Regions from separate parts of the Homo sapiens genome. Here region 1 is linked to region 2. The links come from fine-mapping of genetic effects on gene expression. A gene starts in region 2. The other region holds a variant in brackets. All regions are shown on one strand. Distances are from middle to middle.

Evidence for each region. PIP is the estimated chance that this variant, and not a neighbour inherited with it, causes the effect.
Region 1: its variant is fine-mapped to the expression of LINC03052 in whole blood (TOPMed, PIP above 0.99).

What each region holds. Positions count from the first base shown.
Region 1 is chr2:95,123,272-95,128,648 of GRCh38, reverse strand. It overlaps a transcript of ZNF514 not described here. Among named protein-coding and RNA genes, the nearest start is that of MRPS5, 4.2 kb to the right of the region's middle. The variant A/G (reference allele first, on the strand shown) is at 3,252.
Region 2 is chr2:95,523,930-95,529,306 of GRCh38, reverse strand. LINC03052 (long intergenic non-protein coding RNA 3052) reads left to right here and starts at 2,553. Exons shown (of 1, transcript NR_182300.1): 1 at 2,553-4,434. It also overlaps the pseudogene ANKRD33BP1. RefSeq lists an enhancer at 2,014-2,143 and a silencer at 2,284-2,573.

The DNA.
Region 1 (5,377 bases), 400 kb after region 2:
TTTTCTTTCTTCTTCTCCCTCCTCCTCCTTTTTCTTTCTTCTTCTCCCTCCTCCTCCTCCTCATCCTCTTCCTTCTTCTTTCTTCTTTTTCTTGAGACGGAGTCTCACTCTGTCGCCCAGGCTGGAGTGCAGTGGTTCGATCTTGGCTCACTGCAACCTCCGCCTCCTGGGTTCAAGCAATTCTCCTGCCTCAGCTCTCAAGTAGCTGGGATTACAGGGACACACCACCATGCCCAGCTGTTTTTTTTTTTTTTTTTTGAGACGAAGCCTTGCTCGTGTCGCCCAGGCTGGAGTGCAACGGTGGGATCTCAGCTCACTGCAACCTTCACCTCCCAGGTTCAAGTGATTCTCCTGCCTCAGCCTCCTGAGTAGCTGGGATTACAGGCACCTGCCACCATGCCTGGCTTTTTATATTTTTAGTAGAGATGAGGTTTCACTGTGTTGGCCAGGCTGGTCTTGAACTGCTGACCTCAGGCAATCCGCCCATCTCGGCCTCCCCAAGTGCTGGGATTACAGGCGTGAGCCATCACGCCCAGCCCTAATTTTTTATTTTAAAAACTTTTTGTAGAGGTGGGGTCTCACTGTGTTGTCCAGGGCTGGTCTTGAACTCCCAGACTCAAGTGATCCTTCCACTTCAGCTTCCCAAAGTGTTGGGATTACAGGTGTGAGCCACTGCATGTGGCCATGGCTCTTTAGGTCAAAAATATAGAGGGAACAGCTACCATCAAACTAAAACACTAGGCCGGGTGCGGTGTCTCACGCCTGTGATCCCAGCACTTTGGGAGGCCGAGGCAGGTGGCTTACCTGAGTTCAGGAGTTCAAGGCCAGCCTGGCCAACAGGCTAAAATCCTGTCTCTACTAAAAATATAAAAATTAGCCGGGCGTGGTGGCAGGCACCTGTAATCCCAGCTACTTGTGAGGCTAAGGCAGGAGAACCACTAAGGCGGAGGCTGCAGTGAGCTGCGATCATGCCACTGCACTACAGCCTGGGCAATAAGAGCAAATCTCTGTCTCAAAAAACAACACAAAACACAAAAAACAAAAAAACAAAAACAAAAACAAAAAAACAAAAACAAAAACAAAACAACCAAAAAACACTAAACACAATGAAGATAGTGAGGTGACAGGCACTATGTGGTGGCACTTAATCACTGAACAGAAGTTGGGTATGGTTACCATATAGACAGTAGAACAAACACAATCATCAGAATGGCCAGGCTCACTAGGACCTTTGGTGTTGACCTTTGGTGTTTCTGGAAATAAAAGAGATGGAGAACCTACTGAAGTCTTACTGGATTTGTATAGGCAGAAAAGATCTAGGCCTAGTGAACAGAAGTCTGACTTGAATCACCAAAAGAGGGAGTCATGTCTCCTCAATCAATTCCCAGACTTGAGTGAATTCACAGATCCAGAGTCCCTCGAGTGAAGGGCAGGCTGGGTCCCCTCTCAGGAAAGGCATTGGTACACTACCAAAAACGTACAGCTAATCTTCCTTTCAGCCTTCCCCAAAGGTACTTGTAGCCATTTACCAGGGTGACTATGCATCAAGGACAGAGAAATATCCAGATGTTTTAAGGATTACTCAACACTGCCTCTGAGCTGACACCAATTCCTGGAGACCCGAAATGTCACAGTGACCTGTCAGAGCAGAGGCATAAAGAGATCAGGTGATTGGTGGAGTTTTAGGTCAGGTCTGTCTCACGGTGGGCGCAATAGGTCCCAGAACCCATCCCGTGGTTATTCCTGTAGCTATGGGAGGCCAAGGCAGGAGGATTGCTTGAGGCCAGGAGTGTGAGGCTGCATTGAGTTATGATAGTGCCAGTACACTCAGCCTGGGCGATACAGCAAGATCCTGTTTCCAAGAAAAAAGAAAAGAAAAAAAAAGAAAATGGGCTCACATGTAGAATATACAAAGAATTCTCAAAACACAGCAGTGAAAGAAACCAAACAATCCAACTAGAAAATGAGCAAAAGACATTTTACTCAAGAGGGTATACAGATGGCAATTCTAGAAGCACATGAAAAGAAATTCAACATCATTAGCTATTAGGGAAATGTAAATTAAAACCATGATGATATGTCACCATACCTATGAGAGCAGCTAAAAAAAATGGGGATAACACTGAATGTTAGTGAGGATACAGAGAAACTAGATCTTTCACATATTGCTGGCAGGAATATAAAATGGAATGGCCACTTTGGAAAGTAGTTTGGCAGTTTCTTTCTTTTTTTCTTCCTTTCTTTCTTTCTTTCTTTTTTTTTTTTTTTTTTTTTTTTGAGATGGAGTTTCACTCTTGTTGCCCAGGCTGGAGTGCAATGGCTCAATCTCGGCTCACTGAAACCTCTACCTCCTGGGTTCAGGTGATTCTCCTGCCTCAGCCTCCTGAGTAGCTGGGATTACAAGTGTGCGCCACTACACCTGGCTAATTTTTGTATTTTTAGTAGAGATGGGGTTTCACCATGTTAGCCAGGCTGGTTTCTAACTCCTGACCTCAGATGATCCACCCACCTTGGCCTCCCAAAGTGCTGGGATTACAGGCGTGAGCCACCATGCCCGGCTGGCAGTTTCTTTAAAAACTAAACATATACTTACCACACAATCTAATAATCTCACAGCTTGACATTTATCCCCCCAAATTAAAACTTATAGCCACACAAAATCATGTACATGATGGATATATTTCAAAATAATTGAAAGCAGAGATTTGAAGAGATTATCTGCACACTCATGTTCACAGCAGCATTATTCACAATAGCCAAAAGGTGAAAGCAACCCAAGTGTCCATTGACAGATGAATGGATAATAAAATATGATCTATTCATACAATGGAATATTATTCATAATATTAAAAGTAAGGACATTCTGGCACACGCTATACCTGGATGAACCTTGAGAACAACATGCTAAGTGAAATAAGCCAGTCACAAAAGGACAATACTATATAACTGCACTTACATGAAGGGAGAGGGGAATGGGGAGTTATTGTTTAATGGCTGCAGTTTCAGTTTTGAAAGATAAAAGACTTCTGTGGATAGATGGTGGTGATGGTAGCACAACAACGTGAATGTACTTAATGCCACTGAATTGTACACTTAAAAATGATTAAGATGGTCCAGGTGTGGTGGCTCACGCCTATAATCCCAGCACTTTGGGAGGCCAAGGTGGGTGAATCACAAGGTCAAGAGATCGAGACCATCCTGGCTAACATGGTGAAACCTGTCTCTACTAAAAATACAAAAATTAGCTGGGC[A/G]TGGTGGTGGGCGCCTGTAGTCCCAGCTACTCAGGAGGCTGAGGCAGGAGAATCGCTTGAACCCAGGAGGCGGAGGTTGCAGTGAGCTGAGATCATGCCACTATACTCCAGCCTGGGCGACAGAGCGAGACGCGACGCGAGACTCCGTCTCAAAAAAAAAAAAAAAAAAGGATGGCAATTTTTATGTTATGTGTATTTTACCACAATTTTAAAATTTCTGGCTGGGCACAGTGGCTCATGCCTGTAATCCCAGCACTTTGGGAGTCTGAGGTGGGCGGATCGCTTGAGGTCAGGAGTTTGAGACCAGCCTGGGCAACATGGTGAAATGCTGTCTCTACAAAAATACAAAAATTAGCTGGGCATGGTGGCACAGGCCTCTACCTAGCTACTCAGGAGGGTGAGGCAGGAGAATCGCTTGAACCTGGGAGGGGGAGTTTGCAGTGAGCCGAGATCGCGCTATTGCACTCCAGCCTGGGCGACAGAGTGAGACTCTGTCTCAAAAAAATAAAAATAAAATAAAATTTCTAAATATCAAAAAATCACATACATGAATGTTGATGGCAGCTTTGTTTGAAATAGTTAATAACTGAAGACAGCCTGGGTGCAGTGGCTCACGCCTGTAATCCCAGCATTTTGGGAGGCTGAGGTGGGTGGATTGCTTAAAGGCCAGGAGTTTGAGACCAGCCTGGCCAACATGGTGGAACCCCGTCTCTACTAAAAATACAAAAAATTAGCTGAGTGTAATGGGACACGCCTGTAATCCCAGCTAATCAGGAGACTGAGGCACGAGAATCGCCTGAACCCAGGAGACGGAGGTTGCAGTGAGCTGAGACTATGCCACTGCACTCCAGCCTGGGTGACAGAGCGAGACTCTGTCTTAAGGAAAAAAAGAAAAGGAAAAGGAAAATAAAAATAAAAATAATAATATGAGACAAACTAAATGTCCTACAATGGGTGAATGGTTAAACAAATGTTAGTGCCATGGAATACTACTCAGCAATGTAAAGGAAGAAACTATTGGTACATGGAACTACTTGGATAGACGTCAAGGGTATTATGCTGAGTGAAAAAAAGCCAGTCATGAGATCATGTATTATCTGATTCCATTTATATAATGTTCTTAAAATGATAAAATTATAGAGATGAGAAACAGATTAGTGGTTGCCAAAGGTTAAAGATGGTGGAGGAGAGGATAAAAGAGGGGGTGGGTTTGACTCGAAGGGAGATGCACAGGTGATCTTGGAGATAGAACAGTTCTGTATCTCGATTGTGGTGCTGGATACAGAAATCTACATGTGACACAACTGCATAGAACTACACACACATACACAAATGAGTGTATGTAAAACTCATAAAATCTATGGATTGTACCGATGTCAGCTTCCTGGTTTTGATGTTGTACTATAGTTATGTAAGATGTACCATTTGGGGAAACTGAGTAAAGGATACATGGGACCTCTCTGTACTATTTTTGCAACTTCCTATCTGTATCTTTGAATCTGTAATTATTTCAAATTTAAAAGTTAGAAACAAACGACTAAGTAATCAAAACTTGCTTTGGGCCTTAACAGAGTCTGGAGGCTTGACCATTGACCAGCAACTTACCATGCAGTTTAAGCTGCTCATCATGAACTGGCTGTTGTATGATCACCAAGCCATAAAGTTGTGTGTGCACAGCAACACTCCATCATCGAATGGAAGTGGTACATATGAAACTGAACTGGAGCAGGACCTGAACATGCAAGCTACATGATCTTCTCTCTCTCAACCCCTACCCACAGCTTCATGAGGAATTACCTGTGACCAGTTGCCTGAAGAAGAAAACTCTTGGGCTTGGTTTACTCATGGTTCTGCATGATCTGTTGGTATCACCTGAAAGTGGACAGCTGCAGTACTGCAATCCCACTCTGGGATGCTTCTGAAGGACGGCGGTGAAGGGAAATCCTCCCAGTGGGAAGAAGATAAGAGTAATGTGCCTGGTTGTTCATTTTGCCTGGTTAGAAGTATAGATCTATACTTTTTCATGAGCAGTGGCTAATGACTTGGCTGGATGGTCAGTACTTGAGAGGAACATAATTAGGAAGTTGGTGACAAAGAGGTCTAGGAAACAGGTATGTGGATGGACT
Region 2 (5,377 bases):
CCATTGCCGTTCTACACATCCCTGGAGACTATGAGCATGGGTTGTGGTGCCGTAGTGGCTGGGCAGTATCAGAAATGTCCATTTTTCACCTGGAAGCAGCAGACACCCAAGGCTCAGGGTAGAAGTGGGGGCTCCATACCATTCCCAGTGCCAACTTCCCATGGCAGAAACAGGAAGGAATGTCTGGCAACCCACCAAGGGTCAGACGCCACATCAGCCTGAGCAGAAGCTGCCTGACACTGGCTGTTCCAATGACAATTAGACGTTCTTGGGAAGGTGGCGCCCTTTGTGGGAGCTCAGGATGGGTGTCCTGGAAGTGCCACTTAAATGGCACTGAGGCCTCTCAAAATCCCTGTGTTAGAGCTGCAGCTCTCCATGTGGGCTGCAGTGCAGTCACCTATGGAGCTTTAGGACAGGCCCAAGGCTCAGTTCCCTGGGCCAGTGCCTCAATAACTTTCGCAGTTCGGCTTGGAGAAGCGAGCCTGGGAGACCACGTGGCACTGCCTGGCTGGGTCCTGGGCTGACAGAGGTGAGCGTGGGGCTTGTGGTGACTTGGTAATGCTGTGAATTATGTACGTGTGGCAGGAAGGTGCCACAGTGCTAAGGCCCCGCATCTTGGAAATTCCATAGGGTCCACATGAGGATGAACTAAACACCAAATGCAGTCCTCAAAGGAATAATAAAACAAATACCCACATAAGGGAATCTCTGGAACTGAGTCTGGAAGAGGGGGCTGCCTGGTCCACTCCAGGAGAATTTGCCTAAAACAAGTTTGCTTCTCATTGCATTCTCTTTGCTTCTTCTAAACATCACCTCCTCTAGAGGTTACATTACACCCCATTCCTGTAATTTACATCATTCTGGGCTCCTTACTCTTGTTGCATCCTTTTTTACATTTTAAGGATGCCTAGATTCGATTTACTTAAGAGCATATACGGCTTAATTTTATATTTCTGGTAATCATTTATTACATTTCCCCCATTTTATCAAATGACACATTTTTCTCATGTCTATTTTAATATGTTAAAGATTTTTGTATACAGTTTATCTAAAACTCCTTGCTTAAAATGAGTTTAATTCTAGCAATACAGACATGCCTATCTCTGCATTGTTTTATAATTTGACGATAAATGTTTTTCCTCAATATATGACTGTATTGGATAATACTTTTTAAAAAGATACAATAAAATCTGATCTCTCTGTCTCACTTGATCATGTGGCTGAACCAGTCAATCCCTCCATCAAATAGAAATATCCGGCATCACTTAATCTAATTAATAAAAACATCCACCCATGATGAGAAGACCAAAGCAAACAGCCCAAAAAGGAGAGAATCCCATGATTTCTGTGTAAAGTCCTACAGATATCATAAATATTTATTGCTGGAAACAGTGTTTTAAATAAAAGGTCTTCAGGTAAGTGTATAAAAACTTCCTTGGATACAAGGGACCCTATCACTTGTAAAACTTGGCAAATTGGACAACAATTAAAAATACAAAATTACACAGAAAATATCCTTTAATAAATTGATTTTTTTTTAATTGAGACGGAGTTTGGCTCTTGTTGCCTAGGCTGAAGTGCAATGGCGCCATCTTGGCTCCCTGCCACCTCTGCCTCCAGGGTTCAAGCGATTCTCCTGCCTCAGCCTCCCGAGTAGTTGGGATTACAGGCATGTGCCACCACGCCCGGCTAATTTTGTATTTTTAGTAGAGATGGGGTTTCTCCATGTTGGTCAGGCTAGTCTCAAACTCCTAACCTCAGGTGATCCGCCCGCCTCGGCCTCCCAAAGTGCTGGGATTACAGGCGTGAGCCACCGCGCCTGGCCTAATAAATTAATCTTTAAAAAAATCTTAATTGAGGTTCTCTAAAGGGAGCCTTTTAGGGAACATGCCCCCTAGGTGTACTGATTGCTAGGGTGGCTGGTGTGAAGCGAATCGATGTGGCTCCCCCAGCCCCTTTCTGGGAGCATCCTAGAGAGACAGCGTGGAAACGCGCGCTGCCCGGTGGTCCCGAGAGCTGCCATGGTGCCCAGCCCCGCGGCCTCACCCAGCCCTCAAACCCCGTGCCAAGCACCCGCGGACTCTCACGTCCTCTTCTTCCAGGGCGGCGGGCGCTTCTCCTGCACCTTGGCCTGGCGCCTCTTCTCGGCCTCCTCCGCCTCCCGTTTCTCCTCCTTGGCCACCTTGTAAGGCCACTTGGGTATCCGCAGGTGGCCGCTGCCTTTATGCTGCCCTTCCGCGCCGGCCTTTTGGGTTGGAAGGTGGGCGCGGGCACCTTGCTGAGGCGGACCTGGGCACCACCACGCTGGGCCCCAAGCTGCTCTGCTGCAGGCACTGCAGGGGCAGGAGGCTGGCCGTCCGCGGGGCGGGGGCGGCGGAGCCCCAGGACCCCGGCAGCCGGGCAGGTGGGAGGCCGGCTCTTGGGGAGGCCTTTGTGGAGCCAGCGGCCGCTAGGCCGAGCGGCTTATGCTACTCTGCGCCCTCCTCTTCGCCCGCCTCCTGCGCCTGCCTCCCCCCACCCCTCGCCGCGCCGCCGGAATTTCCTGCGCCGCCAGGATTTCCTGCACCGCCAGCCGCCTCTTCCCCCAGCACAAGGTGCTCTCGGGGCACATAGTCTGGCACGCGAGGGCCCCGGCGGGGCTGTTAGAGGCTCGTGGTCATCCTGACCATGTGGTCCAGGGCGCCCCGGTCCTCTGGGCCCCGCATGGAGCGCGGCGTCAGCGCGGACAGCTCGCAGTCCCTGAGCCTCTGCAGGCAGTTCTTGGAGCCCTCGGGCTTTTGCGGCCTCTCGGGGAGCGGCGGCAGCTCAAGCTGGTACTTTTTCCCCAACAGCTCCCGGCAGGGGCGCTCCAGGAGCCTCTGCATGAGGCGGACGTATAAGTGGCCACTCCTCTGGCGACATCCCACGGCGGGGGCCCTCGCGTGGACACCCGCCCCTGCTAGCTCAGGGCTCCGATGCGATCCGTTCGACCCTGCATGGCGGCTTTCAACCCGAACGCGTCCCTCCTTCAAGATCAAGACCCTGAACGTAGTTCAACAAGTAGTTGGTGATGATAGCGTGCCCTGACTGGGCCAGGATAGCCTCTTTAGTAAAACAGCCACGAAAGTCATGAAACAGATGCTCAGCTCCTTTCTTCATTTTCACTTTAATTCGGTGATGCCTCTGTGTCTGTCTGACGACATCTCTCCTGGGGTCTGTGATTCTGCTGATGGTCTTCAGTGCCTACTGAGAAGGGTTCCTGGACATCATCAGGTATGAAAACCTCAAAGCTCTCGGTCCTCAACGTGAGAACCCTGGGCCAGCGGCATCAGCCTCACCAGGAAACCTGTTCTTCTGCTCATTCTTGGGCCCCACCCCAGGCCTATTCAAAGAAAGACTCCAGGGGCAGGGCCTGGCAGCCTGTGTTTCCACCAGATCTGTGTTAAAGCTCAAATGAACCAGCCCACGTGATGCTGACCAGGAAGCACAAGGCTGAGAGCCAGTGTCCAAGGCAACGGTGCCCATGGGGCCAGAGGCAGCTCCTGCCTGTGCAGCTGTATTTAGGGCTGCGTTCCCCTCCCTGTCCTGCCAGTTGACGTCAGTGTGGGGTTACTCAGCTAAGGCCACCACGGTATATCCACAAAGCCGTGGTAGCAGGCGACATTAAGGCTGGTCCAGCCATTGTGGTCAGTCTCCTGCGCCTTCTCAACGCTCACCCCTCGCCGCACCAGCGTCCGCAGCAGCCCCATGCCTCCTGGACGCCCTCCTCCGGGACGCTCTCCAAGCCCTCGACGCCGTGCTCCTCCTCGTCCTGGAAAGGGTACAGAGTCGTCCCAGGCTATGCTGCAGGTGTGGGGCCCTGGAACTCTTTGTAGTCAGCGCGGTCCTCCTCGACCTGTGCGCCTAGGAGTGGGGACGGCGGTGGCGGGGTCATGCAGCGCTCCCAGCCACCCTGCGGCCGGGTCCCAGCCAGCAGCACCATGCCAGCGGCCGGAGGCGTGGGCTGGGGGCCGGGGCACCGTCCCGGAAAACCGGGCGCGCCCCAAGGTCCCTGCTTCTCGCTTCCGCGTCCCCAGAGAAGCCGTAGCTCCCGCCCCCAGCCCGGCAGAAACCTCCTTTCTTTACATTATTAAGTTTGTTTTCATTTTAATTTTCTTAGGACATTGATAAAATCACTTTCGGATTTTTGAGATTAAAAATTAAATAATTTTCATCTTTACCCTTTTTAAATTTTTCACACTTTATTTTAATGCTTTTATTCTTTTGTAAATTTTAATTATTGTAATTTATATCTTCAATTATTATGGAAGAATTTTAGAAAAGTCTTTTCACATAATAAAGACTAATTAATGAACTATTATTTATTCTCTCCTCTATCTCAAATACGGACTTTAAACTTTTAGAACACTTTTTGTTTTGAGACTCTTGTTACTTATGTGACATTTTAACTATTCACTCTTCTAGTGAATTTTTAATGTCATTCAAAGGGTACATCTTTCTACACTGAGAATTAAACAAAGTTCTCAAAAATATTCTCAGATAATTTAGAATTTCACCTTCCACTGGCATGTTAAGTATGTTCTCCTTCCCTTCTAATGCATATTTTCCTCACACGTCCTCATGTTATACTCCTTATTCACCCTCCATGCAAGAGGTGATTTTATTTATTTATTTATTTATTGAGACAGAGTCTCAGTCTGTCACCGAGGCTAGAGTGCAGTGGCATGATCTCGGTTCACTGCTATCTTTGCCTCCTTGGTTCAAGTGATTATCCTGCCTCAGCCTCCATAGTAGCTGGGATTGCAGGTGTGCACCACCATGCCCCGCTAATTTTTGTATTTTAGGTAAAGACAAAGTTTTACCATGTTGAACAGGCCAGTCTTGAACTCTTGACCTAAAGTGATCCACCTGCCTTGGCCTCCAAAAATGCTGAGATTACAAAAACAGCAACTAAACGCTGGAATGATGACTGGGAACTTGTCTAGAGTCTCCAGTGATTATCCTCCTTATAACAAGGCAGAAAGCCTTCCTCAGAATTATCTGGACTGACATCACTCATTGTCCAGACCTGTTAACAGCAACAAGTGCTGTGAGTCTCAAATGTGCTCCTTCAATAATGCAGTAGAAGGCCTGAGTTTCCACATAATAGTATCCTTGAATGCCTGGAGACTTAAGGCACAAGAATGTATTGATCCTATGAACTTTATGTTTTGTAAAATTTCAGATTATGTGAGGTGTTTGGACAAATTAAGTTTCAGGGTGATATCCACTATTGAGACAGAAAATTAGTTTAAAGAATTAAGACCTCAAAGTCCAGAATGAGAAAAAATTGTTTTTCTTAGAGCCTCCTTATAACTGTCTTATTTGTTTTATAGATGTAAGTACTAGAGGACAAGCT